Regions from separate parts of the Homo sapiens genome. Here regions 1 and 2 are each linked to region 3. Evidence: fine-mapped expression QTL. A gene starts in region 3. Each other region holds a variant in brackets. All regions are shown on one strand. Distances are from middle to middle. Region 1 overlaps CHD3 (chromodomain helicase DNA binding protein 3). Region 2 holds the start of EIF5A (eukaryotic translation initiation factor 5A). Region 3 holds the start of CNTROB (centrobin, centriole duplication and spindle assembly protein).

Region 1 (8,173 bases), 39 kb before region 3:
ATTTAGGTAATTGTGGAGACTTTCTCCTGTGTGATGAAGGCGGCAGACACTGTGATCCTGTGGGCAAGAAGTAAAAATGACCAGCTGAGGATTTCTTTTCCTCCAGGACTGTGTTGGGGTGACAGGATGCCTGGTAATTATCCGAGGAAATGTAAATAGAGGCCTCCCTCTTGGCAAAAGGATGTCAGGGCCCCAGGGTGTTAGTGTGAGAACCCAGGTGTCCACCTTTGGCTCTCCCTCCCCAGCATCTGGCTTAGGGAGCTGCCAGCTTGTGTCTCCCCACTCCAAGTGCTGGGGTCAGGCCAGGCCAGCAGCTGGGCATGGCTTCCCCAGTTCCTGGGCAGGATGCCAGCTGGCGAAGTGAGGGGGAAGGCAGGAGGAGCCCTGGCGGTGACTGAAAGGACCTGCCACAGTCAGAGCCCATGGCCTGGAGCCTGGTCTCTTGTTAGTAGGAGGGGAGGGAGGGGAGTGGTTTGGCTGCTCTTCTCTTCTGACCCCTGACCTCCCATTCAGAACCAGAGCATCCCAGAGTACTCGAAACACTTTCTGTTTGCATCCAGTGAAGGGAGGCAGGGCTTGGAGGAGTTAATGCTTCCTAGAGAGTGGGAACTGCCGAGGTGGGGAAGGGGCAAGTTGAGGGGCCTCAGAGGCTGGAAACCTAGAGGCTTAGGTTTTCTGATGCTTTTTGCTTCAAAGATAAGGATGACATTCGGCTGCTGCCGTCAGCATTGGGTGTGAAGAAGAGAAAACGAGGACCCAAGAAGCAGAAGGAGAACAAGCCAGGAAAACCCCGAAAACGCAAGAAGCGTGTAAGTGTCAAGAATTCCTAACTCTGTGGCAAGGCTCAAGAGACCCATTCTCAGAGACCTACATTTTCTCTGGTCCTGATTACTGGTGTGGGGGTGGGGTTCTGAAGCCAGGGAGGCTTGATCCCCCGGGCCCCCCACTTCCCTGCCACTGTTGGCCTGTATCTCAGGGATCTGGGACCCTAACTTCATTCACTGCAACCTAGTGAAGAGCCTCGTTGTCAGTGTGTCCTCAGCAGCAAAGAGAAGCAGTTGAAAGCACAAGCTCTGGAAGACTGTATGAATTCAAGAGTCCAGCATTCCTCTGTCTAGGATACCAGGCCGTTTATTTGGCTCTCTGTGCCTTAGTTTCCTCATCTGTAAAAAGTAGATAAAGGCCGGTTGCAGTGGCTCACGCCTGTAATCCCAGCACTTTGGGAGGCTGAGCCGGGTAGATCATTTGAGGTCAGGAGTTCGCGACAAGCCTGGCCAATGTGGTGAAACTCCGTCTCTACTAAAAATACAAAAATCAGCCGGGCGCGGTGGTACGTCTGTAATCCCAGCTACACAGGAGGCTGAGGCAGGAGAATCGCTTGAACCCGGGAGGTGGAGGTTGCAGTGAGCCGAGATCACGTCAGTGCACTCCAGCATGGGTGACAGAGCAAGACTCCATCTCCAAAAAAAAAAAGGAGATAAAAAATTAGTTACTATCACAGGATTGTTGTGAAGATTAAAAGAGGTAAGATATGGTATGTGCTGAGAACAGTTTCTGGCAATGGTAGGGATGAATAAATGTTATTTTTATTTCTTTCTCTTAGGACAGTGAGGAGGAATTTGGTTCTGAGCGAGATGAGTACCGGGAGAAGTCAGAGAGTGGGGGCAGTGAATATGGAACCGGACCGGGTCGGAAACGAAGAAGGAAGCACCGAGAAAAAAAGGAGAAGAAGACAAAGCGGCGGAAAAAGGGGGAGGGAGATGGGGGGCAAAAGGTGAGTAGAATTAGGGAATGAGAGTGAGAAATCTGCATTAAAGACGGGCATGAGGAGGGGAGGAATGGAGACTGGACTGGAGAATGGGGCAAGAAGCAAGAAAGCCCAGGGAAGCTAGTGGGTAGGTAGACAGGCCTGTGTGCGGCCTGGAATAGGGGCTGGAGGAGCACCTACTTCACCAAAGCCCCTCTCCCGCAGCAAGTGGAACAGAAGTCATCAGCAACTCTGCTTCTGACCTGGGGCCTGGAGGATGTGGAGCATGTGTTCTCTGAGGAGGATTACCACACGCTCACCAACTACAAAGCCTTCAGCCAGTTCATGAGGTGCGGTAAGACTGGGGAATCCTCGCTAATTGACACTTTTAATTTGAGGGAGGTCCTGGACCCCTTGGAATCTGATGAAAGCTATGAAACTGCTCTCCAGAGAATTCACGGTGTATACACACCAAATTCTACACGTCATTTCAGGGAACTCCTAGACTCATAAGGATCCAAGAACCCCAGTTGAGAACTCTTCACTGAGGGGCGAGGGGTGGAGGGGCCATCATGATTCCAGTGCTGGGTTAGAGAACTCTTTAGCAACAGAATAAAGTGAGGACAGAATATAGTGAGCCCTCCCCTGCCCCAACAGCTCCATCTTCTGCTCTGTGACTTCTCTCTAGACTGGACCTGAGAGATACCATCAGTGTTCCTGAACTTCCTTAGCTCACTTAGCAGGTCCTGTGCCCCTTCCTTAGGCCCTGGTAATAATGGAGGGTCCACTGCTGGCAGTGGGACCTGAGCTTCAGTGGCTCCTGAAGAAAAGTAGAGAATAGTAGAGTAGAAAATAGCAGAGATGGGCCAGGTGCAGTGGCTCATGCCTGTAATCCAAGCACTTTGGGAGGCCAAGGCAGGTGGATCGCCTGAGGTCAGGAGTTCAGGACCAGCCCATCCAACATGGTGAAACCCCGTCTCTACTAAATACAAAAAAATTAGCTGGGCGTGGTGGCACATGCCTGTAATCCCAGCTACTCGGGAGGCTAAGGCAGGAGAATCGCTTGAACCCGGGAGGCAAAGGTTGTAGTGAGCCGAGATCACACCACTGCTATGCTCTAGCCTGGGCAACAAGCGAAACTCCGTCTCAAAAAAAAAAAAAGAAAAAATAGTGCCGATGTATTTTGTTTTGGGGAGAAGGCACTTTAACATATCAGTTCAGTGCTCTGGAGGCAGCTGCTGAGGTTCACATCTGGTTACATTTTGGGCAAGTGACTGAACTTCTTCAATCCTCAATTTCCTCTTCTATAAACGGGGAATAATAATATATACCTCATAGGAATCTGTGTGGGTTTGGTGGGATAATGAATGGAAAGCACAGTACCGTCAGTGCCTGGCTCCTAGGGAGCATTCAGTAACTGGTGACTGTCATTAGTAACGTTGTCTCACCTACCTTACTGCTGAACTTGGGGCTTTTCTCAGCACCATGGATCACCCGTGTCCGCACAAGAGTTGAGCACCCCACCCCAGAGCAGAACCAGCATGGTCTGACTCTTTCACACTCCGTCCTACGGAAGCCCATCTTCAGGGCCCATGGAACTTACTAGTAAAATGCAGAGAATCATAGCAACTCAAGAGTATTATTGTGAGGACAAGATAAGGTGGAATGTATGTGAAAGGGTTTTATGAACTGTAAAGTAGTATACAAAAGTAAAGCATTTTTGTTGATTTTATTTTAACCTTTTATGCTTTTAAGTTTTATTTCGCTGTTTTTTATTTCCCCTTTTTTTTTTTTTTTTTTTGAGATGGAATCTCACTCTGTCGCCAGGCTGGAGTGTAGTGGCGCAATCTTGGCTCACTGCAACCTCTGCCTCCCAGGTTCAAGCAATTTTTCTGCCTCAGCCTCCCGAGTAGCTGAGACTACAGGTGCGCACCACTACACCCAGCTAATTTTTGTATTTTTAGTAGAGACGGGGTTTCGCCATGTTGGCCAGGATGGTCTCCATCTCTTGACCTCGTGATCCTCCCACCTTGGCCTCCCAAAGTACTGGGATTACAGGCGTGAGCCACTGCGCCCAGCCTATTTCCCTTTTTTTAAAGACAGGGTCTCATTCTGTCACCCAGGCTGCACTGCAGTGGTGTGATCATAGCTCACTATATCCTCCAACTCCTGGGCTCAAGCCACCCTCCTGCCTCAGCCTCAGGTGCTGCCACACCCAGCTAATTATTTTTTTTTATTTTAATTTTTTGTAGAGACAGGATCTCACTTTGTTGCCCAGGCTTATCTCATAGCCCTGGGCTCAAGCAATCCTCCTGCTTCAGCCTGGAATTACAGGCATGAGCCACCGTGCCTGGCCTGTATTTCTTTTTTAATGCTTTTTTAAACCTGTTCTTTCCCCGCTTTTTTTAAACTTCTTTTTATTTATTTTTTTAAATGGCTGTTTTTCCTAATAGGACATATTCTCACCACCCAGGAATCCTAGCATGTACATAGATTTAATTGATGAGGGGAGATGGCAGTGTTCCCAGACCATCTGTGAAGGGTCCGAGTTTTCTGCTTCTATATTTACAGGCCCCTAATTGCTAAGAAGAATCCTAAGATCCCAATGTCTAAGATGATGACCATCCTTGGGGCCAAATGGAGAGAGTTCAGTGCCAACAACCCCTTCAAGGGGTCAGCAGCTGCTGTGGCGGCGGCAGCGGCAGCAGCAGCAGCAGCTGTAGCTGAGCAGGTGTCAGCTGCTGTCTCGTCGGCCACCCCCATAGCACCCTCCGGACCCCCCGCCCTTCCACCACCCCCTGCTGCTGATATCCAGCCCCCACCCATCCGAAGAGCCAAAACCAAAGAGGGCAAAGGTAGGGAAC[T/A]CTCTTCCAACAACTGTCATCTCACCTTCCAAACTGCATGTCTTCACATTAGAGTCTGGAACTCTCGCCTTCCCAGCCCTGATTGCTGGAGGAGAGATGCTTTCCAGGAAGTGGGGCTTAGTGAAACCACAGCCCACAGAGGAATCCAGAGGCCCCTGTGACCTCCATAATTCCAGGATGTCATGACCTCTCCTTTTTCCTCTTCTCACCCCGACTCCTCATTCAGGTCCAGGCCATAAGAGGCGGAGTAAGAGCCCCCGAGTGCCTGATGGACGCAAGAAGCTTCGGGGAAAGAAAATGGCACCACTCAAAATAAAACTAGGGCTTCTGGGTGGCAAGAGGAAGAAAGGAGGCTCGGTGAGTGACCCGTCCCTGTCTACTAAACACCTGGGGGCCAAGGATCCAGAGACAGGGATCCGTGAGGGCCAAGGATCCAGAGACAGGGATCCGTGAGGGATGGCGGAACAGGAAGCCAAAGGCCTGGGGAGGGCGTAGAATGAAGTCTGCCTCACTGACGGCCACGGGGCTATGGGCAGTATGTTTTTCAGAGCGACGAAGGTCCTGAACCAGAGGCTGAGGAATCAGACCTGGACAGTGGCAGTGTCCACAGTGCCTCAGGCCGGCCTGATGGCCCTGTCCGCACCAAGAAACTAAAGAGAGGCCGGCCAGGAAGGAAGAAGAAGAAGGGTAAGGAGTGTTGACTGTGTGTGATCCTGTCAGTGGGCCGTCCTCTCATTCTTATTTTCAATTTTGACTTCTCTCTTCAACCCTTCTCCCTCTCTCTCTCCATCTCCCCCTGCCCTGCTTCCTTATCCCTCCACCGGGGTATATGACAGTCCTGGGCTGTCCTGCAGTGGCCGGGGAGGAGGAGGTTGATGGCTACGAGACGGATCACCAGGATTACTGTGAGGTGTGCCAGCAGGGTGGGGAAATTATTCTGTGTGACACCTGCCCTCGTGCCTACCACCTCGTCTGCCTTGATCCTGAGCTTGACCGGGCTCCAGAGGGCAAATGGAGCTGCCCTCACTGTGTGAGTACCTAATGCCAGCATCTGATGGCCCTGAGGAACCCACCCATCTCTTTCCCCCTTGGTTTCACTTACCCTCTTCCTGCCCCCAGATGGCTGGACTTCTTAGTAACAGATGTCCGAGTGTCTAGGATCCTAATGTATTCCTTTCTCCCACAATCAACATTTCTGAAACTGGAGTGTCCTTTTCCTTAGTTCCCACCAGTCTTCTCTGCACTTCTAGGATTCAGGTGTCCTGTCTTTGCCTGTATCTTCCAGTTTCATTCCTTAATTTCTTCCATCTGTCTGTGTGTCTATCCTTGGCCCCCTAGGAGAAGGAGGGGGTCCAGTGGGAGGCCAAGGAGGAAGAAGAAGAATACGAAGAGGAGGGAGAGGAAGAAGGGGAGAAGGAGGAGGAGGATGATCACATGGAGTACTGCCGCGTATGCAAGGACGGCGGGGAGCTCCTGTGCTGTGACGCGTGCATCTCCTCCTACCACATTCATTGTCTAAACCCTCCCCTGCCTGACATTCCCAATGGTGAATGGCTGTGTCCCCGATGCACAGTGAGTGGAAACATCTCCCCTCTGTATTTACTGTCAGGCCTGATCCCTTCCCCCATCCCTGGGGCCCACATGTCCAGCTTTTCATTTCTCTGCACTCCCCCACCCTTGTGGGACCCCTATCTTCTCATCTAACAATGGGTTCTTTCTGCCTCTTTCTTTCCTCCTCCTTGTACGTGTCCATCCCAAAGTGCCCCGTGCTGAAGGGTCGAGTGCAGAAGATCCTACATTGGCGGTGGGGGGAGCCACCTGTAGCAGTGCCAGCCCCTCAACAGGCAGATGGAAATCCAGATGTCCCACCCCCCCGTCCTCTTCAAGGCAGATCAGAGCGAGAGTTCTTTGTCAAGTGGGTAGGACTATCCTACTGGCACTGCTCCTGGGCCAAGGAGCTTCAGGTACTAGGACCTTTTCTTTCCCTCTCCCCCATGACCTCATTTCCTGCCATCCTCTCCCTCTCTTACTCCTCTGTTTGTTGGGTTCCCATACTCTTTGTTTTCTCTCATTTCAGGCCTGTGGCCTTCATACCCTACTTGCTTAGTTTCCATATGTGGTTCTTTTGGTCTACAGTCCTCTTTCTCTCAGTCTCCGTTAGCTTCCTTCCCTCAGATATAGCATAGCCTTTCCTAACTTCATGTCCTTCCTTATCTGTCTTTTTCCATGTTTTATAATATTCCTGGCTGGGCATGGTGGCTCACACCTATAATCCTAGCACTTTGGGAGGCCAAGGCAGGAGGATTGCTTGAGACCAGCCTGGGCAACATAGTGAAACCCCATCTCTGTTTAAAAAAAAATTCTCGGCTGGGTGTGGTGGCTCACGCCTGTAATCCCAGTACTTTGGGAGGCCGAGGTGGGCGGATCACCTGAGGTCAGGAGATCGAGACTATCCTGGCTAACATGGTGAAACCCCATCTCTACTAAAAATACAAAAAAATTAGCTGGGCGTGGTGGCAGGCACCTGTAGTCCCAGCTACTCAGGAGGCTGAGACAGGAGAATGGCGTGAACCCGGGAGGCGGAGCTTGCAGTGAGCCAAGATCGTGTCCCTGCACTTCAGCCTGGGCGACAGAGCGACACTCTATCTCAAAAAAAAAAAAAAAAAAAAAAAAATTCTCAATGTTTCTAATCCCATTCCCTATCTCTTGCTTGTAAGAGCCCCACCCAGGCCTTGTCTTCTGAAACTGTTGCATCTGTTTCATTTTATTTATTCTCCGTCTTGGCTTTGACTCATTTATCTCTAATCCATCCTTTTTCTTTTTTTTTCTATTTTTTTTTTTTTTTAGATGGAGTTTCGCTCTTGTTGCCTAGGCTGGAGTGCAGTGGCACGATCTTGGCTTACTGCAACCTCTGCCTCCTGGGTTCAAGCGATTCTCCTGCCTCAGCCACTCAAGTAGCTGGGATTACAGGCATGCGCCACCACGCTTGGCTAATTTTGTATTTTTAGTAGAGACGGGGTTTCTCCATGTTGATCAGGCTGGTCTCGAACTCCCAACCTCAGGTGATCCACCTGCCTCTGCCTCCCAAAGTGCTGGGACGCGCCTGTTATTCTCTTATTGCCCCGGCTGGAGTGCAGTGGTGTGATCTTGGCTCGCTGCAACCTCCGCCTCATGCATTCAAGCGATTCTCCTGCCTCAGCCTCCTGAGTATCTGGGATTACAGGCGTGCGCCACCACACCTGGCTAATTTCTGTATTTTTAGTAGAGACGGGGTTTCGCCATGTTGGCCAGGCTGGTCTTGAACTCCTGACCTCAGGTGATCCACCCGCCTGAGCCTCCTAAAGCACTGGGATTACAGGCATGAGCCACCGTGCCTGGGCCAATCCATCCTTTTTCATAGCTCCCTTTCCCTGTCCCATTCCTCCTGCCGGCCTCTTCCCGGTTCCTTGTTGTCCTCTGTGAGTGTCAGGACTATCTCTTTCCCTTTTTTCTGTGCCCTGCTAGCTGGAAATCTTCCATTTGGTTATGTATCGAAACTACCAGCGGAAGAATGACATGGATG
Region 2 (8,148 bases), 620 kb before region 3:
ACATGTATCGTGTCACAAGACTTTTTTTTTTTCTTTTTTAAGAAACAGGTTCTCTGTTGCCCAGGCTCAAGTGCAGTGGTGGGGATTATAGCTCAATGAAGCCTCGAACTCCTAGACTCAAGCTATCCCTCCACCTCAGCCTCCCAAGAAAGAGTAGCTAGGTCTACAGGCACCAGCCACTGAGCTGAGCTTTTCTTGTTTTTGTTTTTTTAATTTTTTATTTGTAGAGATGGGCCGTTGTTATGTTGCCCAGTCTGGTCTGTAACTGCTAGCCTCACGGGAGCCTCCCACCTTGACCTCCCAAAAAGCTAAGACTACAGGTATGAGCCACTATGCCCAACCCATGTTGCAGAATTTTTGCAACGTCCTGAAAAATTGGGAAGTTCAGGCATCATTATTATTCTCATTTTATGGGAAGAAAATTAAGGCAGAGCTATCTGAAGTAATTCCTTAAAGACACAAAAGAAGGATGAGATCCCAAGATCTTTGGTCGCTTGTTTCTGTCTTTTTTTTTTTTTTTTTTTTTTTGAGATGGCGTATTGCTCTGTCGTGCAGGCTGGAGTGCATTGGCGAGATCTCGGCTCACTGCAATCTCCACATTCTGGGTTCAAGCGATTCTCCTGCCTCAGCCTCCCGAGTAGCTGGGATTACAGGCACGCACCACCACGGCACGGCTAATTTTTGTATTTTTAGTGGGGACGGGGTTTCACCATGTTGGCCAGGTTGGTCTGGAACTCCTGACCCAAGTGATCTGCTCGCCTTGGCCTCCCAAAGTGCTGGGATTACAGGTGTGAGCCACTGCGCCTGGCCGCTTGTTTCAGTCTTGTTATCCAACAAGGCAGCCATGAAGGTAGTGCAAGAAACCCAGGAATTGGAAGAAGACTACGAAGTTTCAGGAAAAGCGAAATGGGGGGCGGAGAGAGGGAGGGCAAAGAAAATAAAGTTGGGAAGATAGCTCGTCTCCAGCTTCATGGTCTCCTATGATTAAGACAATGTCAATGTAATCTAACATACCACTTTTTTTTTTTTTTTTTTTTTTTTGAGACAGAGTCTCTCGCTGTGTCTCCTAGGCTGGAGTGCAGTGGTGCGATGTCGGCTAACTGCAACCTCCGCCTCCTGGGTTCAAGCGATTCTCCTGCCTCTGCCTCCCGAGTAGCTGGTACAGGCGCCCACCTCCACGCCCGGCTAATTTTTTTGTATTTTCAGTAGAGACGGGGGTTTCACTACGTTGGCCAGGCTGGTCTTGAACTCCTGACCTTGTGATCCGCCCGCCTCGGCCTCCCAAAGTGCTGGGATTACAGGCGTGAGCCACCGCTCCCGGCCTACCACTATTTTATTTTATTTATGTATTATTTATTTATGTTTTTGAGACTTGAGTTTCGCTCTTGTTACCCAGGCTGGAGTGCAATGGCGCAATCTCGGCTCACGGCAACCTCCACAGGAGAAGCGATTCTCCTGTCCCAGCCTCCCGAGTAGCTGGGATTACAGGCATGCGCCGCCACGCCCGGCTAATTTTGTATTTTTAGTAGAGACGGGGTTTCTCCATGTTGGTCAGGCTGGTCTCGAACTCCCGACCTCAGGTGATCCGCCCGCCTCGGCCTCCCAGAGTGCTGAGATTACAGGTGTCAGCCACCGCGCCCGGCCCACCACTCATTTTTATAGACAATTTTTTCTAAGGGACCTCGTAGACAATACTTTGGGGAACCGCAGAGCACAGTTGGGGAAAACACAGTAATACCATCTAAGTTTCTTTACTGAGGACCTCAGAGCCGAATGGCCTCTATGGATGCCATAGAGACCAATACGGACTGAGGGTTTAAAGAAGATGGTGTCCGCCGCAGGACCGCTCTATCTTCTCGGGTGAACTCTATGGCAGAGCATAGGCATTCGATTTAGAGAAGTGAAGCCGAGATGGGTGGGAACCCGACCACACTAGCGCGCTAGAAGAGTGGGGCGGAAAGACATCTCCCGCGCATGTGTGGAACTGGGGGGACTGATTCCAAGACAAGGCGCCCACCCCACAGAGCAAGTTTTCTGAAACGTGTGAGTCGTTTAAGTCCAGTTAAAGCCGAGGTGGGGCGTATCCTGAGACGCATGCGTTCTAGACGAGACAAGTGATCTAGCGGCGTGGTCTTTTCAACGCCTGGCGTACTGACGGCGTCTGAGGTGGAAGGGGTTGTTTAGGATTCCGAACACGCATGCGTTCTGAGACCCAGGCGTTTCCTTTAGAGGGTGTGGAGTGCAGGGCTCCTTATTGCGCAGGCGCAAGGACTGCCCGGTAGGACGAGCGGTCTATCAAGGGGAGGGAAGATGAGGTTGAAGAGATTAAAAAACCGGGTGCGCCTGCGCGTTGCAGATTAGTTGAAAACGCTCAGGGTTTGTGAGGGGCGGGGTCACGTATGCGCGTCATTGGACGGGTCGGTGGGAGGGAGGGTGGAGATGGGTAGGGTGTGTGCGCTTGCGCAGTGCGGGGGTGGAGGGCGGAGGAGATAGATAGCACGCTTGCGCGGCTGTCATAGGGCTGCTTGGTTGGTCAGTGGGGAGTCGGCGCCTGCGTACTAAGACCCGTGTGCAGCAGCGGCGGCGGCGGTAGAGGCGGCGGCGGCGGCGGCAGCGGGCTCGGAGGCAGCGGTTGGGCTCGCGGCGAGCGGACGGGGTCGAGTCAGTGCGTTCGCGCGAGGTGAGAGCGGGCAGGGCGCGTGTGCGCGGTACCTTGGCTTGGGCCCGGGAGAAGATGGAACTGCGCGGGGGTCGGGGAGGGGGCAGAGGGGAGCGGCGGCCGCCGCCGCACGGGTTCGGCCAGAGAGCGGCGCGAGGTGAGGAGAGGCGCGGGCGCGCGCCCCGGTTGGCGCGCGGGGTGACGGTTGGGGTTGGCCCGGTGACGTTGGAGCGACGCAGGGCGGGGGACGGCGAGCCGCGAGGCAGCCACGCGGGAGAGGCCGCCAGGCGGCCACGCCGGGGCGAGGGCCAGGGGCCAGATCGGCCCACCGGGGCAAGGGTACCTGGGCCGTTGAGGACCCGGCTCAGCGCGGCCACGTGAGGTGGGGGAGGGGGCTATTCGGTGAGAGGGCATGATGGGGGGGGTTGGCGGACGGCCGGGGGGAGGGGAGGCGGCGTGGCTCCGGCCTGGCGCAGTCTCTGAGGAGGGGGCGGCCGCGGCACCGGAAGTGCCCCCCACGGGAGGCTGCCCTCGGGGTCGCAGGCCGCATGGCCAAGCGTGGACCGGGGCCGCATGGCAGCGCGGGGACCCCTCCCCCCAGGTCCCGGCCACCGGAAGCCCGGAACGGCCACATGGTCGGCAGGAGCCGGCAGCCCCTAGCGCGGGGAGCTAGTCCTCGCGGGGGTTCCGAGGGGGCCTGAGATTTTGAGGAGTGGAAGCCGGAGGCTCGGGTCCTAATCACCCCGGAGGGCCTGCTGCAGGCATATGTTAGCGCTTCCCAACCTCAAGGGCCCCAGGAGCTTTCCTGAAAAACCCTCCTGTGAAGTGTGGCGGTCAGCCAGGTGTAAGTGGCACCCCTTCGAGCTGGGAGGCCGGAGAAATGGGGAAACAGGGCGTTTGGACAGGAGCCCAACTTTTCTGTCGGCCTGGGTGGACAGCGCCTAAAAGCCTCAGGCAGATGAGTTTCCCACCGTGATAGGCGTTCTTCACCTTGTCACTGTCTTCCTGTTGTAACTGGTTTGGGAGTTCCACGGTTTCGAAGTCCTTAACTCTACTAGCCTAGTATGATTTTCTACTACTCACTACTACCAACCTTTTGCTTTCATTTTATTGTCATTCACCACCCCCCACCTCTCCCACTTTCTACTGACTGTACTGGCCCGGCCTGAAAAGCCGACAGGACAGATGCATCCTGGGAAAAGTGGGAGGGCCTTCCAGGAGAGGCTGGGTTCCTGGGTTCTCTTTGGGAACCAAGATCGAGGTGTTTGGCAGGGGGATCATTTCGGAAACAACTTTGCTTTCTCCCCCTTGGCTTGTTGCAAGTGCATGTTGGCGAGGCGGGAATCCCCCAAAGAGGCCTTGTGGTTTCCTGTAGCAGTGACTGGTTTGTGTGTGGATGGGGGGGGGCAGTGTAACAGATGGGTGGGGCCTTGTCCTCCGGTCTCCACCCTCCCCCCCCCCAATTAGCCCTGCCCTTTTGCTGGATCATAGCTGCTCACCTAATTATAGCCCTGGCTATATGTGGGGAAGAGGGGTGGTTGGTTTCAGTGGCAAGTAACACCTGAGTCCTCCCCACTCCCAGGAAGTAGGCCTTTTCTCATCTCTGAGATTTGACATTCCAGCTCCCTAGAGCCTTCCTTTCCCAAGCCACCACTTTAGCTTTGATTTATGGGGGAGAAACCAGCTATTCCACCCTCCCATACACACACCAGTTCTTGAGTATATTTGAGCCCAGTCAGTATTTTAAGTTCAGGAACTTTGACTTTATTTTAGGTGGGTAATGGAATAAAGAGTTGGGAAAATGTTTCTGGAGAGAAATGGGATAGATTGGAGGTCCTGTTGACCTCCATGCTTATTCACTTCAGTTCTCTTCTTGGCTCTAGTTGGAATCGAAGCCTCTTAAAATGGCAGATGACTTGGACTTCGAGACAGGAGATGCAGGGGCCTCAGCCACCTTCCCAATGCAGTGCTCAGCATTACGTAAGAATGGCTTTGTGGTGCTCAAAGGCCGGCCATGTAAGATCGTCGAGATGTCTACTTCGAAGACTGGCAAGCACGGCCACGCCAAGGTTAGAATTTCACCTCCGCATCTTGCCTTCCCCATGCCTCCAGTATCTTTGGCGCTCCCAGCAGCAAGCTGCCAACAGTGCTGACTTTCCTTTAACTCTGCTTTTACTGTCTGATTGTTTTTGTTTAGCGCTCAGCCTTCATACCCATTCAGACAACTACACCTGCTCCCCAGTCTTCAGCCTCTTCTGTGGTTACCCTTCTGTCCCCGCATCATTCTCTGGCAGTCCCTCC[G/A]TTTCTCCAGCTTTGTGCCAATCTCTTCAATTCATAGGCCTTTATGCTCTAGCTATTCAGTTGCTCCTTCCTTATTCTTGGTTTTCACTTTTTCTTTCTTCCCTTGAGCCGTTGTTAAGTGGTTGCTTCCATCACGTTGCCCAGGGTTTCTCCAATTCTACGCCTTCCCCTGGAGGGACTCCTGCGTCAATTCTGAGCTTTCAGGTCACCTTGCTGCTTCGTTCCCCAGTTCTAGCTTTCCCTTTGGAACTCTGACGCAGGATCAAACTGCCCCTACCTGCCCCATCCCACTCTCCTTGGGTTCCTTGAGCCTCCATGCTTTCATGGGTTTTAACATTCTTGCTAGCACTTCCCTCATCACCTCAGACTTTTCCTGTCTCTTTAGAATTTCAACCTGATTCGTTCTTGTTGAATTTCTTGTGGTGTTTTTCCTTAATCAGTTTTTCCATCTTTTGACTTGACATTGATCTTGGATTATTCTCTAGTGTCTGGATCCCTCTCTGTGCTCTTCTGGCTTCCTTATTTTCTAGCTACATAGTTATTTCTGATCTCCCTGCAAGTCCTTTTCTTCAGCTCTTTCACATTTCTTAGTTTCTTATCCTTTCCCTTCTACCTTCCTTATTCCCCAGTTTCTCAGCTCCTTCTCCTGGTGTCCGGAAAACTCTTCGAAACTTTTACTCAGACTCCTCCCACTCCCCTAGACTCTTAGCATCTTATCTTTTATCAAGGTAACTGTCTTCTCCAAGCCTGCCATGCAGTTTTCTATTGTGCTGTCAACCCCAATCTCAACGGTGGTTTTTTAGCCTCTGTTTTTTTTCTTTAAGAGGCTTTACTGTTTCTTGAGTTGACTGGTTCAATTCCAACACTCCAGTCTTTGCCCCAACAATGTAATTCTGACTTCCCTCATCAGGCAAGGTCAATTTGAGCCTTTATTTCCTCCGTTTTAGAGTTTGGTTGGGTTTCTCTTTGTGATGCATACATACAGGTCCATCTGGTTGGTATTGACATCTTTACTGGGAAGAAATATGAAGATATCTGCCCGTCAACTCATAATATGGATGTCCCCAACATCAAAAGGAATGACTTCCAGGTATGTAGATGGTCTGGATGAGGATGGGTTAGCGGTTTATGGTGGAGGGAGGGGTTGGGGGATAGGGACTGACCAGGAGAGCTTGTGCTGGGAGAGAGGAGGGAAATGGCAGGAGAGGGTGTTTGGTATTAGTTTGCTATCAGTCCAGTTTGTCTATCAGAGCCTTTACTGTCATGTCAGCCTCCCTGGGCCTACTACCTTCAGCCTCCTTCCCTATCTGCCCCCAGCTGATTGGCATCCAGGATGGGTACCTATCACTGCTCCAGGACAGCGGGGAGGTACGAGAGGACCTTCGTCTCCCTGAGGGAGACCTTGGCAAGGAGATTGAGCAGAAGTACGACTGTGGAGAAGAGATCCTGGTATGGTGCCTCCCTCCCTGCTTCTGTGCTCAGCTTTGTTCTGTACGTTTCTTCCTGAGCTCAGACATCTCTTGGCTATCCCTCTTGCTTCTCCAGATCACGGTGCTGTCTGCCATGACAGAGGAGGCAGCTGTTGCAATCAAGGCCATGGCAAAATAACTGGCTCCCAGGTGAGTGTGACAAATCCCTCACTGTCCCCTTCACATTTTGTTGTCCTCAGCAGAGCTGCTGTAGTCTTAATTGTTTCAGGCTTACTTTCTGCCCCTAGCCTGGCTCTGTCCTCCCTATCCTTCCTGTTGAAGGTATTATCCTGTCTTACTAATTTCTCTCTCCTACCTAGGGTGGCGGTGGTGGCAGCAGTGATCCTCTGAACCTGCAGAGGCCCCCTCCCCGAGCCTGGCCTGGCTCTGGCCCGGTCCTAAGCTGGACTCCTCCTACACAATTTATTTGACGTTTTATTTTGGTTTTCCCCACCCCCTCAATCTGTCGGGGAGCCCCTGCCCTTCACCTAGCTCCCTTGGCCAGGAGCGAGCGAAGCTGTGGCCTTGGTGAAGCTGCCCTCCTCTTCTCCCCTCACACTACAGCCCTGGTGGGGGAGAAGGGGGTGGGTGCTGCTTGTGGTTTAGTCTTTTTTTTTTTTTTTTTTTTAATTCAATCTGGAATCAGAAAGCGGTGGATTCTGGCAAATGGTCCTTGTGCCCTCCCCACTCATCCCTGGTCTGGTCCCCTGTTGCCTATAGCCCTTTACCCTGAGCACCACCCCAACAGACTGGGGACCAGCCCCCTCGCCTGCCTGTGTCTCTCCCCAAACCCCTTTAGATGGGGAGGGAAGAGGAGGAGAGGGGAGGGGACCTGCCCCCTCCTCAGGCATCTGGGAGGGCCCTGCCCCCATGGGCTTTACCCTTCCCTGCGGGCTCTCTCCCCGACACATTTGTTAAAATCAAACCTGAATAAAACTACAAGTTTAATATGAAGCCCCCAACTCAGCTGCTTATTTGAATTAAATGGGTGTATTTGGAAGCCACAAAAAGACTGAACTCTGCCACTGAGTTCACTGGAACCCGCTGTCTATCACTTTGACTTGCTGTGGACCTGCCAGCCATCCCCCCACCCTCCAAGCAACCTTGACCTATTCCAGACAGTTGGGTGGGAGGCAACACAAACAGCAGCAGCCAGGGGCAGTGGCAGGTAGATTTTATTGGCCTGGGACACACAGGGGATACCCTCACCCACGATGGGGTGGGGGGTGTGGTGTTGAAGATATAATCTGATGGTCACTTGTGGTAGAATCGCGGGTTCTGGCTGTGTTGGATGAAGGGGAGCCGAGGGCCAGGTTGGCTGGTAGCTGCAAAGCCCGACTGGTGGTGGTGATGAAAAGAGGGCTTTGTCACTGGGCATACTCTCCCTTCCACTTAATACCCTACTGATAACCACCCCCAAAGAGGAAGGAAAAACCAGATGATGTGGGCCACCTGTCCTACCTAATCCTGCTTTTCCGGATCCCTAGTGTAGGGATTCTGACAGGTAAATTCTATTACCATTCTTACCTTTCCTGCTGGCTGCATCTGCACAGGGAGCTGGGGGGAAGCAAGGAGTCCAGGGGCTGGATGCAGAGCCTGGGGGTGCATGGGGCGCAGAGAGGACTGCAGAGAACAGAGTCAGGGCCTGAGGCATACTGAAGCTCCCCTTAACATATCCCTAACCCTGACCTCCCAAGGTGCCATACTCACTGAGTCGGA
Region 3 (8,173 bases):
CTTTTTTCAAGTTCCCTCACCCCCACCACCCTGATTCTAGGTCCGATAACTTATACCTCATCTGAGATCTGAGAACCAAATGTGACCCAGGTACCTGCAAGAGAGAAGCCAGGCACATGAGAACTGCAGGGGGCAGACCATGAAAGAATGCCCTCCTTTCCTTAATCCCTATTCTGACTCACCTAGGCCAAGACAGGATACCCGAAGACCAGACTTCCCTAGGTTCCTGCAAGATACAGAAGCAGCGGGAAGGGGTGGAGCCTCCATTATGGACTTAGATTATCAGCCCCCAGCTCCTCTCCTTCCAGACTGAGAAGCCCTCAGGTGTCTCAGTCCAAAGAAATTAGACCCAGTGGGCCTATAAGATTGGGCAAGTGCTATCTCCAGAGCAGAGGTCCTAGGAATTTTCTCAAAAGGACAAGTGAACCATATGTGACTGTTCCTCTGGAGCCACTGTCCAGAGTCTCCATTCCCTCTTATCACATTGAAGACGTGCAGTCTGGTTTGTCCTTCTTCTGGGGTCTTGTCTGTGTTTGAGTCATCTGTGGGTTGTGTGCAGTGAGGGGCTGGGAGGAATTTTGTTTGATTGTGGTGAGTTTGTGAGACCAGGCCCTCAGGCAGAGTGCTGTGCCAAATGGTAGATGGCAGGTTGGAAGAGGTAAACCAAGTCAAGTTCAGGCATTCAGACAGACAGGGGTCCCTGGCTAGGCTAGGCAGATGGGCCTGGAGGAAAGGCAGATTGAGGACCTGGGGGGAGGGGGGAGAGTAAGACAGAAAAGCCTAGTTCTCCCTCTCCACTCCCTCTGTTCCTATTGACTTGTGAAGACTGTCTCTGAACCAGTGAGCCCCCTCATCCTCCCAAAGCCCCCAACCCAGGTGTCAGCTCAGCTTTCCAATCAGGGCCACCATATAGAGGGGATCAGATTCCTCAGGTGACAAAGCAGGTCAGATCAGTGACCTCAGCTCACTCCCAAGCAGGAGCCCCTCCTCTACCCCCTACTTCAGGTTCTGAGCTTCTGGTCTGGCAGTCCTCTGAGATAAAGTCAGTTACATTTCAGTCTACCCAGACCCTGTCCCTCAGCATGGAGATGAAAAATGTGGTCCATCCTTCCCACCGGCCCCACTCCCCTTGCACCCAAGAAAGGTCGCAGAAGACCTAGCCTTTGGGGCAGGCAGGGGCAGTATCTGGGTCAGGCACCCCGAGCAGGCCAGAGTGAGAAGCTGATTCCCTCCCTCCACTCCCCAGGACACGGACCCAAGGACACTCCACTGGAGGAGGCATAGCCTGGAGATCCGTGTAGCGTGGAGATCCATGCATCCCTGACCTTCCCAGGGGTAAGGAGGGAAGCTCAGGGGCATCCCCTGGGTCTGACAGGACCCAGTCAACCTTGGTAAACTTGATTCTCGTAGTCAGGGGTATCGACAGAAACCAAGAGAGGGACAAAGTGAGGGAGTGCCAGAGACAGAAAGAAGAGATGGAAAGAAGGGAGACCTACTTAGTGAAGTTTGAAGGGGTCTTGGCGGCCATCTCAAGCAGTCTCAGGGGTCCCGAAAGGAAAGCGGAAGGGGTGGGCTGCCCGGCCACCCCCATACCTGTATTTCATGCCAGTGCCTCGGCCGGTGCTCTCTCGGAGGGCCCCAGCGGGCGCTGGGGGTCGGGGAACCAGTGCAGCTCGGGCCTTGGGGCCAGACCCTCCACCCCCCGGAGGATTCCCGTGCCCCCCGCCGGCCGGCCCACCATTACCGCCCCCGGGGCCCGGCCGGGGTCCACACAGACGGTCCTCACTGCTCCGGCTGCGAAGGTTCTGCTCGGTACACGCGATAGACACCTGCATGCTGGCTGGCCGAGGCGGGGGAGGGGGCTCCGAGGGGACGGGAGGGGGGAGCAGGGAAGCCCGAGGGCTGACGACCGGGGGCGTAGTGGGGCGAACCCCGGCAGAGCGGGAAGGCTGAGGAGGCTGCGGCGGGAGCCGCCAGGCAGGATCGGGCCCGCGGGGGCGGGCTGCTGGAGGTCGCGAGGTTTGCGGCGGGAGGGAAGAAACGTGGGGGGCGCCAGGAGTGGAGATATTCAGTTACGGGGGACACAGGAGCAAGGATTAGGAGGGGGAAATGGATGAGGGTAAAGGTCGAGGATGAGGTAAAGGTCTCGGAGGATAAGGACCCAGGGGGAAGCGGGGCGGGAGAGAGATGCCACTTCAGCGCGAACCGCTGCGGGACCCGCTGGGCTCCCAGCCGCGTCGGCAGCGGGCCCAGCTCATCAGCATGCAGGCACCGCCTCCTCATCTGCATAGAGCCGCCCTCCTCTCAGCCAAACCTGCCGCTCATCTGCATAAGCCCCGCCTGCTGAAGGCTCTGCAGCTTGAATATTTTCTGAGCGGAATTGGGGAGGATGGCTCCTGCACCCTCTGGGACCCAAGGGCTGTCAGGCTTCCCCCGGCCCAGTGATTCTCAATCGGGAGGGAATGTATCTCCCAGCGTACTTTCGGCAAGGTTTGGAGATATTTTTGATTTCATGCCTGTGCTATCAGCATCTAGTGGGTGGTGGCCAGGGATGCTAAAATCCTACAAAGCACAGGACGGTCCCCACAATAAAGAATTATCCAGCTCAAAGCATCAATATTCCCACGGTTGAGAAACCCATCCGCAAAGCCACTTCGTGGCCCTCCAGGGGGTGTGGCTGCCCTACTTTCCACCTTCATGCGTGGGGCAGGACTGAGAGGGCCCTCAAACCAACACGCTCAGGCCGCAGAGAGTGACAAAAAGTTTATTCTGTGCTTCTCGCAGCATTAGGCAGGGGATAAAACTGGAGAGAGGGCCTGGTGTGGAGGTGGAGGGACTCTGTGGGCTTCACTCTGGTAGGAGGAGAGCATCAGGGCAGGCCTTTAGGCTGTTGCTCTGGGCAGGGGGTGGGGGTGCGGGGGCTTACAGTGGGGGCCCTTAGTTGGCACAGGTTCGGAAGGGCCCCAGGCAGACATGAATTCTCCTGAGACTTGAGGTAGGTTGCTTCAGCCAGCCCGGGCGGAGAAGAAGGGCAGAGAGCGAACATAGGAGTCCAGTCGGGAGCGAAAGAGCTCACTTTGCACAGTTTGGCCCAGCGGGCACAGGGGATTCTTCACCACCAGCTCCACATACAGCTATGGAAAGGGAAGATGTTAGAGCCAGGCTTTGGATACTTCTGGTTTTTAGCCCCAAACCTTGTATAACCTCAGGGGTGTGTGAATGCACAAGGAATAAGGGCTGGAAGGCAAGCCCTCTCTGAGGAGAAAGTGGTGGTGGGAGTTAAGAACCTAAGGGCCCCTGAGAAAACTCTTGAGTTGAGCAAACATATAGTAGGATTGGGGCAGGGGAGATGAGGGAGTCTTGGGGTTCTGAAGAGCTCTGGGGGATGGGTCCCTGGGGCTGGCACTGACCGCACTGTAGATGTGGTGCAGCACATCTCGGATGGGTCCCACGCCCAAGTCAGTATTCATGACAACTTTGATCCCAGTGGGCGTCTCGTAGTAATGGAGTTTGTAACGGCTAGTTTGGAAGGCCAGGAAGCCATCCTTCCTGCAGAGATGAGGAGGGTGTTAAAGAATGGGAGCAGAATCTCTCCCAAAGAGACACTTCTGATCCCCGCAAACATCGACTCCCTCTTTATCTAAACATATCCTTTGTAGAAGCCTGGTTGAGTAAAGACATCGCCCATCGTCACCCCTCAATTTAGCCCCCACCAACTTCTCTACTTTCAGACCCTCCCCACCCCCACTCCTGCCAGCTCCAGCACTCTCGCTCCGGACTCAGCCTCTCTTAAGTACCCTTTCCCCCCTCTGGAGGCCAATGCTCCTTCCACTTCAGAAAGTTTCCCCCATCCCCAAATTCCCAAGGCTAGCCCTCCTCCCAACATCTTCTCTGACTCCGCGTACATGTCTAGCGGGGACATCTTGCTGACAAACGAGCGGATAGAGAAGAGCATCCCGTACATCAGCTTATACTCCTGGAGGGAGAGGGGCAGAGTTAGCTCTCGGTTGATGCGGGAGATGGGGTGGGGGGTGGGAACGAGCTGGGGTTTGGAGAGGAGGGGCTGGGTTGGGACTATAGGTGTTTGGAGATGAGAGGTCGCCCGGGCTGCACCGGGGCCCTCTCGTCACCTCCTCCTTGGGAATCCCTGCTTGCTTCTTGCGGTGCCATTCGCTGTAGTGCAGACACACTCCATTCCGGTCAAACAGGTACAGGTTGTGGACAGTCATCTGCAGGGCAGGGAGTGTGAGCCTCGCTCCGGGGCCGCCCCCACTCCTTGGGCTCGGGTTCCCGGACCCACAGCCTTCCAACCAGGTGGGGACCCCACCCACGGACTCACCGGAACTGCTCCGAGTGCCCGTCAAGAGTTACTTCCGGTTTCCACGGAGCTCCGCCCCTTAGGGGGGTTCTCGCTCGGCCGCGGCTGGGCATTAACTCCGCTCCAGTGCTGCTTGTCAGACTCCGCCTCCCTCCCTCAGCCAATCTGTGGCCACCGGAGCCGCGCACGCGCGGCCAGGCGCTCGGGATACAGAAGTGATGTGAGTGTCTGCGAGCGTGGTCTCGCGGGCGGGTGACGTCATCGAGGCGAGAGAGGCGGAGCCGTGGACAGTGGGCGGGAGGCTGCCAACGGTTTTGAGCGTAGGGGGAGGCGTGAGAGGGGGATCTCAGGGGAGGAGGTCAATCGCTTGCCCCCCACTTTGGCAAATTGGGGACTGAGGACTGGAAGGGTGGAGAGTAGGCGGAACCAGGTGGTCGTCGGGGCAGAGGATCTCGGGCTAGGCTTGAGGGCGGCGTGCTTCTTAGGGACGACTTAGGGCGTGACTGAGGGTTCACAAGGTTTCTTTTGGGGTGGTCGGGAGGGAGAGATTCTAGGGAACAAGGAAGCTCGCTATGGCTTTCTTGCCAGGAGGGGTCGAAGGGAAAGTACAAGGGAGCTGGAGCTGACCCTGGGTAGAACGGGTGAAGGGATGGGGGAGCGTGAGGTTCCGCCCTCTCTTGAGACTGGAACCAATTGAGGGACTAGTAGGGCAGGGGGACAGAAATTGGGCTCCTAGTGGATTTGGGTCCGTTTCCGTTGGGACGTTTTGGGTGTGAGAACTTAAGAGCTCAGTTGACCGGGGATAGCCTGTGCCGGAGTTGATCTGCAGCTTCCAGCACTCGTAGTCGGGAAGAGGAGCTTCAGCAGCGCTGTTGTCCCACAGTAGGTCTTCTGTCCGCACCCGCTCTGCGCTGCACCCTCTTAACGCTGTTCCCAGGAGCTGGGGAAAGGGATGCTTTTGCCCACTCCCATGGCCCCTGGAACTGGTGGAAACCTTTCCTCTAACCAGAAAGCCTCGATATCCTTAATTCACCAAGGATCCTTGGCGTGGAGTCTTCCTCCCTTCTCCCAAGTCTTTCTCCGTGAACTTTTCCTCCTGGACTTTGCTAAAGCAGAACCTCCCAGCTCTTTGCTGTCTCCGGTTGTCTCTTCCCTGTATTCATGGCAACATCAGCTGACAGCCCCAGTTCACCCCTCGGGGCGGAGGATCTCCTGAGTGATTCATCAGAACCCCCTGGGCTCAACCAAGTGTCGTCTGAAGTGACCTCCCAGCTCTATGCTTCTTTGCGCCTCAGCCGGCAGGCGGAGGCCACGGCCCGAGCCCAGCTGTATTTACCCTCCACCTCCCCGCCTCATGAAGGGTTAGACGGCTTCGCCCAAGAATTGAGTCGAAGCTTGTCAGTCGGATTGGAAAAGAACTTGAAGAAAAAGGTGAGGGAAGTGTGTCTTGGAGACCACTGTGGCACTAGACACCAGAGAGTCTTGGGATTGGGGTTGGTAAAAATAAAAAGCTTTGATGAGATTTGAACTCTTCCTGTTGGATTTCATATTCCTTTTAACTGCATAGGCAGCCATGCTTATAAGGGAGGGAGTGACCTGGGACACCATAATTTGAAAATTATGAAACTTCCCAGTGTTTTTTTGTGAGAGACATCTCTGCTCCGAGTAGATAGAGCAAACCTATGGGGTAGGTTGGTGAGCTATTTCCCGTGCACTGGGAATGGGTAAGGTTTCTTGATCCCAAGAGGGAGCTAGGGACTTAGGATAGCAGCTCCGATCCTTCCAGCTCAACACTATGTTGATAGTATGGTTCCAACTTTGGCATGTACATCATTAAGACATAGCTTAGTCAACTACAACATGTTACAGAGAAGATAGTTATTAGTATTGTATAGAAAAGGTGTCAGAGTCAATTTGCAGACTGGTTAGGTCTTCCAGAGTTTGAAAATGATAGCCATAAGCCATACAGTCCTTACATTTGTTCTTGAATCGGCAAGAATCTCCGCAACTCTTGTCTTATACCTCCTCGATTATTTTATTTACACTCTCTTTCTGGCTTCTGTAGTATTTGAATTTCTGATTCAAGTTTAGGACATCCCTTATTGGATCCGTTTGGTTTTTCTTGTTTTCCAAAGTGCTGGAGTGAAAATTCTACCCTGGCAATAGGTAGGAGATAGATAACACAGACTGCATCTGATTTCCATGTGGCTTTTTTCCAGGATGGTTCTAAGCATATCTTTGAGATGGAAAGTGTTCGGGGTCAGCTCCAGACCATGCTCCAAACCTCACGTGATACAGCCTATCGTGAGTAAGCCCCTTCCCTAGAACTATGAAGGAGAACCTAGATGTAAGGGGTGGGAGAAAGTGGACAGAGGAAGCAGGCAGGAAAACCTCTGAGCAAGAGATTTCAGGAGAAAAGTCTCCCGTTCTTTGGGAGAGGGGGTGAAGGAGTGAGGGAACTGGAAAGGAAGGCCTTTTCTCTTCAGGTGGCCCCTGTTTTTGTCATTACCTGACTCTGGCTTTGGGGTCCCTCTGGCTGCCTGCAGGGGATCCTCTCATTCCTGGCGCTGGCTCAGAGAGACGGGAAGAGGACTCCTTTGACAGTGATAGCACAGCCACCTTGCTCAAGTGAGTTCTCCTTGTGGTTCTCCTAGCTTGTTTGCTTTCTTGGAAATCCAGGTGTTTTGTTCCTTATTTCTCCCTTTATTGCTTTTGTACCTCTTAAGAACCCAAGAGGCTTATCACTTGCCTTTCAGTTTTCATCTTTTTCTACTGTCTCCTGCCCCCTTTACTCCTTCAGGAACACAGGTATCTGTTGCCTAGTACCTGGCTTTCTCTTAACCTGCAGTCATTCTTCCCCTCTAAAGAGTTAGCTTGTTTCTGCTGAAACCTTTAAGTGAATCACAGACCTGTGTGTTATTTATAGCACTATGGTTATATAGCTTTACGACTTTGGACAAGTCTCTTGCCCTCTCTGGGTCTCAGTTTCCTCATTTGTAGAATATCACAGTTGGACAAGTGGATTCCAAAAGCTTTCCCAGCCCTAACATTCTCTACCTGATTTGCTCAGCACCCGGCCCCTGCAAGACTTGTCTCCATCTAGCTCAGCCCAAGCCCTGGAGGAGCTGTTTCCCCGCTACACCAGCCTTCGGCCAGGGCCTCCACTCAATCCCCCAGATTTTCAGGGGCTGAGAGATGCATTGGATTCAGAGCATACCCGCCGCAAGGTAAGATGCAAACGCTTCCTTTCGAAAGCAGCAAAGATTAGAAAGAGGGGACCCAAGTGTTGAAAAGGGCTGAGGGGGCCTGGCGTGGTGGCTCACGCCTGTAATCACAGCACTTTGGGAGGCTGAGGCAGGCGGATCACGAGGTCAGGAGATCGAGACCATCCTGGCTAACACGGTGAAACCCGTCTCTACTAAAAATAGAAAAAATTAGCCGGGCATGGTGGTGGGTGCCTGTAGTCCCAGCTACTCGGGAGGCTGAGGCAGGAGAATGGCGTGAACCTGGGAGGCGGAGCTTGCAGTGAGCCGAGATCATGCCGCTGCACTCCAGCCTGGGCGACAGAGCGAGACTCCGTCTCAAAAAAAAAAAACTAAAAAAGAAAAGGGCTGAGGGTTAAGAGCCTGAAAGCTGGGACTTAAATGTTTTTCTGAGGAGGGCTTTTTTGACCATTCCATCTAATATGGCACCACCTCCTTTCCAAGTAGTCAGATCGCCTTCTTATTTCTTTCATGTAGCTTATCGTTCTGATATATCTTGTTTTTTTCTCCTCTCTAAAATTTGAGGGTCCGTATCTTGTTTGTCTTAGTACTGGCTGCCTAAGGTCTAGAATATACATAACACAGAAACACT

What was found.
Region 1: its variant is fine-mapped to the expression of CNTROB in whole blood (GTEx, PIP 0.95).
Region 2: its variant is fine-mapped to the expression of CNTROB in aorta (GTEx, PIP 0.92).

What each region holds. Positions count from the first base shown.
Region 1 is chr17:7,888,968-7,897,140 of GRCh38, forward strand. It overlaps CHD3 (chromodomain helicase DNA binding protein 3), which reads left to right. Exons shown (of 40, transcript NM_001005273.3): 1 at 1-133; 2 at 697-809; 3 at 1,604-1,774; 4 at 1,973-2,097; 5 at 4,319-4,602; 6 at 4,838-4,968; 7 at 5,148-5,298; 8 at 5,448-5,641; 9 at 5,950-6,183; 10 at 6,372-6,575; 11 at 8,116-8,173. The coding sequence starts at 34. Among named protein-coding and RNA genes, the nearest start is that of CHD3, 4.3 kb to the left of the region's middle. RefSeq lists enhancers at 254-823, 4,781-5,980. The variant T/A (reference allele first, on the strand shown) is at 4,612.
Region 2 is chr17:7,305,073-7,313,220 of GRCh38, forward strand. EIF5A (eukaryotic translation initiation factor 5A) reads left to right here and starts at 2,556. Exons shown (of 6, transcript NM_001970.5): 1 at 2,556-2,680; 2 at 4,543-4,728; 3 at 5,946-6,050; 4 at 6,278-6,409; 5 at 6,506-6,579; 6 at 6,750-7,391. The coding sequence starts at 4,564. The coding sequence ends at 6,568. It overlaps GPS2 (G protein pathway suppressor 2), which reads right to left. Exons shown (of 11, transcript NM_004489.5): 9 at 8,140-8,148; 10 at 7,957-8,052; 11 at 7,589-7,767. The coding sequence ends at 7,684. RefSeq lists enhancers at 870-1,681, 1,553-1,852, 1,682-2,492, 3,723-4,012 and silencers at 2,403-2,512, 2,873-3,042, 3,133-3,252. The variant G/A (reference allele first, on the strand shown) is at 4,961.
Region 3 is chr17:7,927,601-7,935,773 of GRCh38, forward strand. CNTROB (centrobin, centriole duplication and spindle assembly protein) reads left to right here and starts at 4,606. Exons shown (of 19, transcript NM_053051.5): 1 at 4,606-5,749; 2 at 6,538-6,622; 3 at 6,865-6,946; 4 at 7,389-7,545. The coding sequence starts at 5,480. It overlaps KCNAB3 (potassium voltage-gated channel subfamily A regulatory beta subunit 3), which reads right to left and starts at 2,256. Exons shown (of 14, transcript NM_004732.4): 1 at 1,594-2,256; 2 at 183-226; 3 at 57-94. The coding sequence starts at 1,835. TRAPPC1 (trafficking protein particle complex subunit 1) reads right to left here and starts at 4,346. Exons shown (of 4, transcript NM_021210.5): 1 at 4,131-4,346; 2 at 3,906-3,976; 3 at 3,411-3,549; 4 at 2,749-3,134. The coding sequence starts at 4,229. The coding sequence ends at 3,006. RefSeq lists enhancers at 4,060-4,299, 4,640-4,689, 4,910-4,969, 5,000-5,289, 5,420-5,549 and a silencer at 5,477-5,654.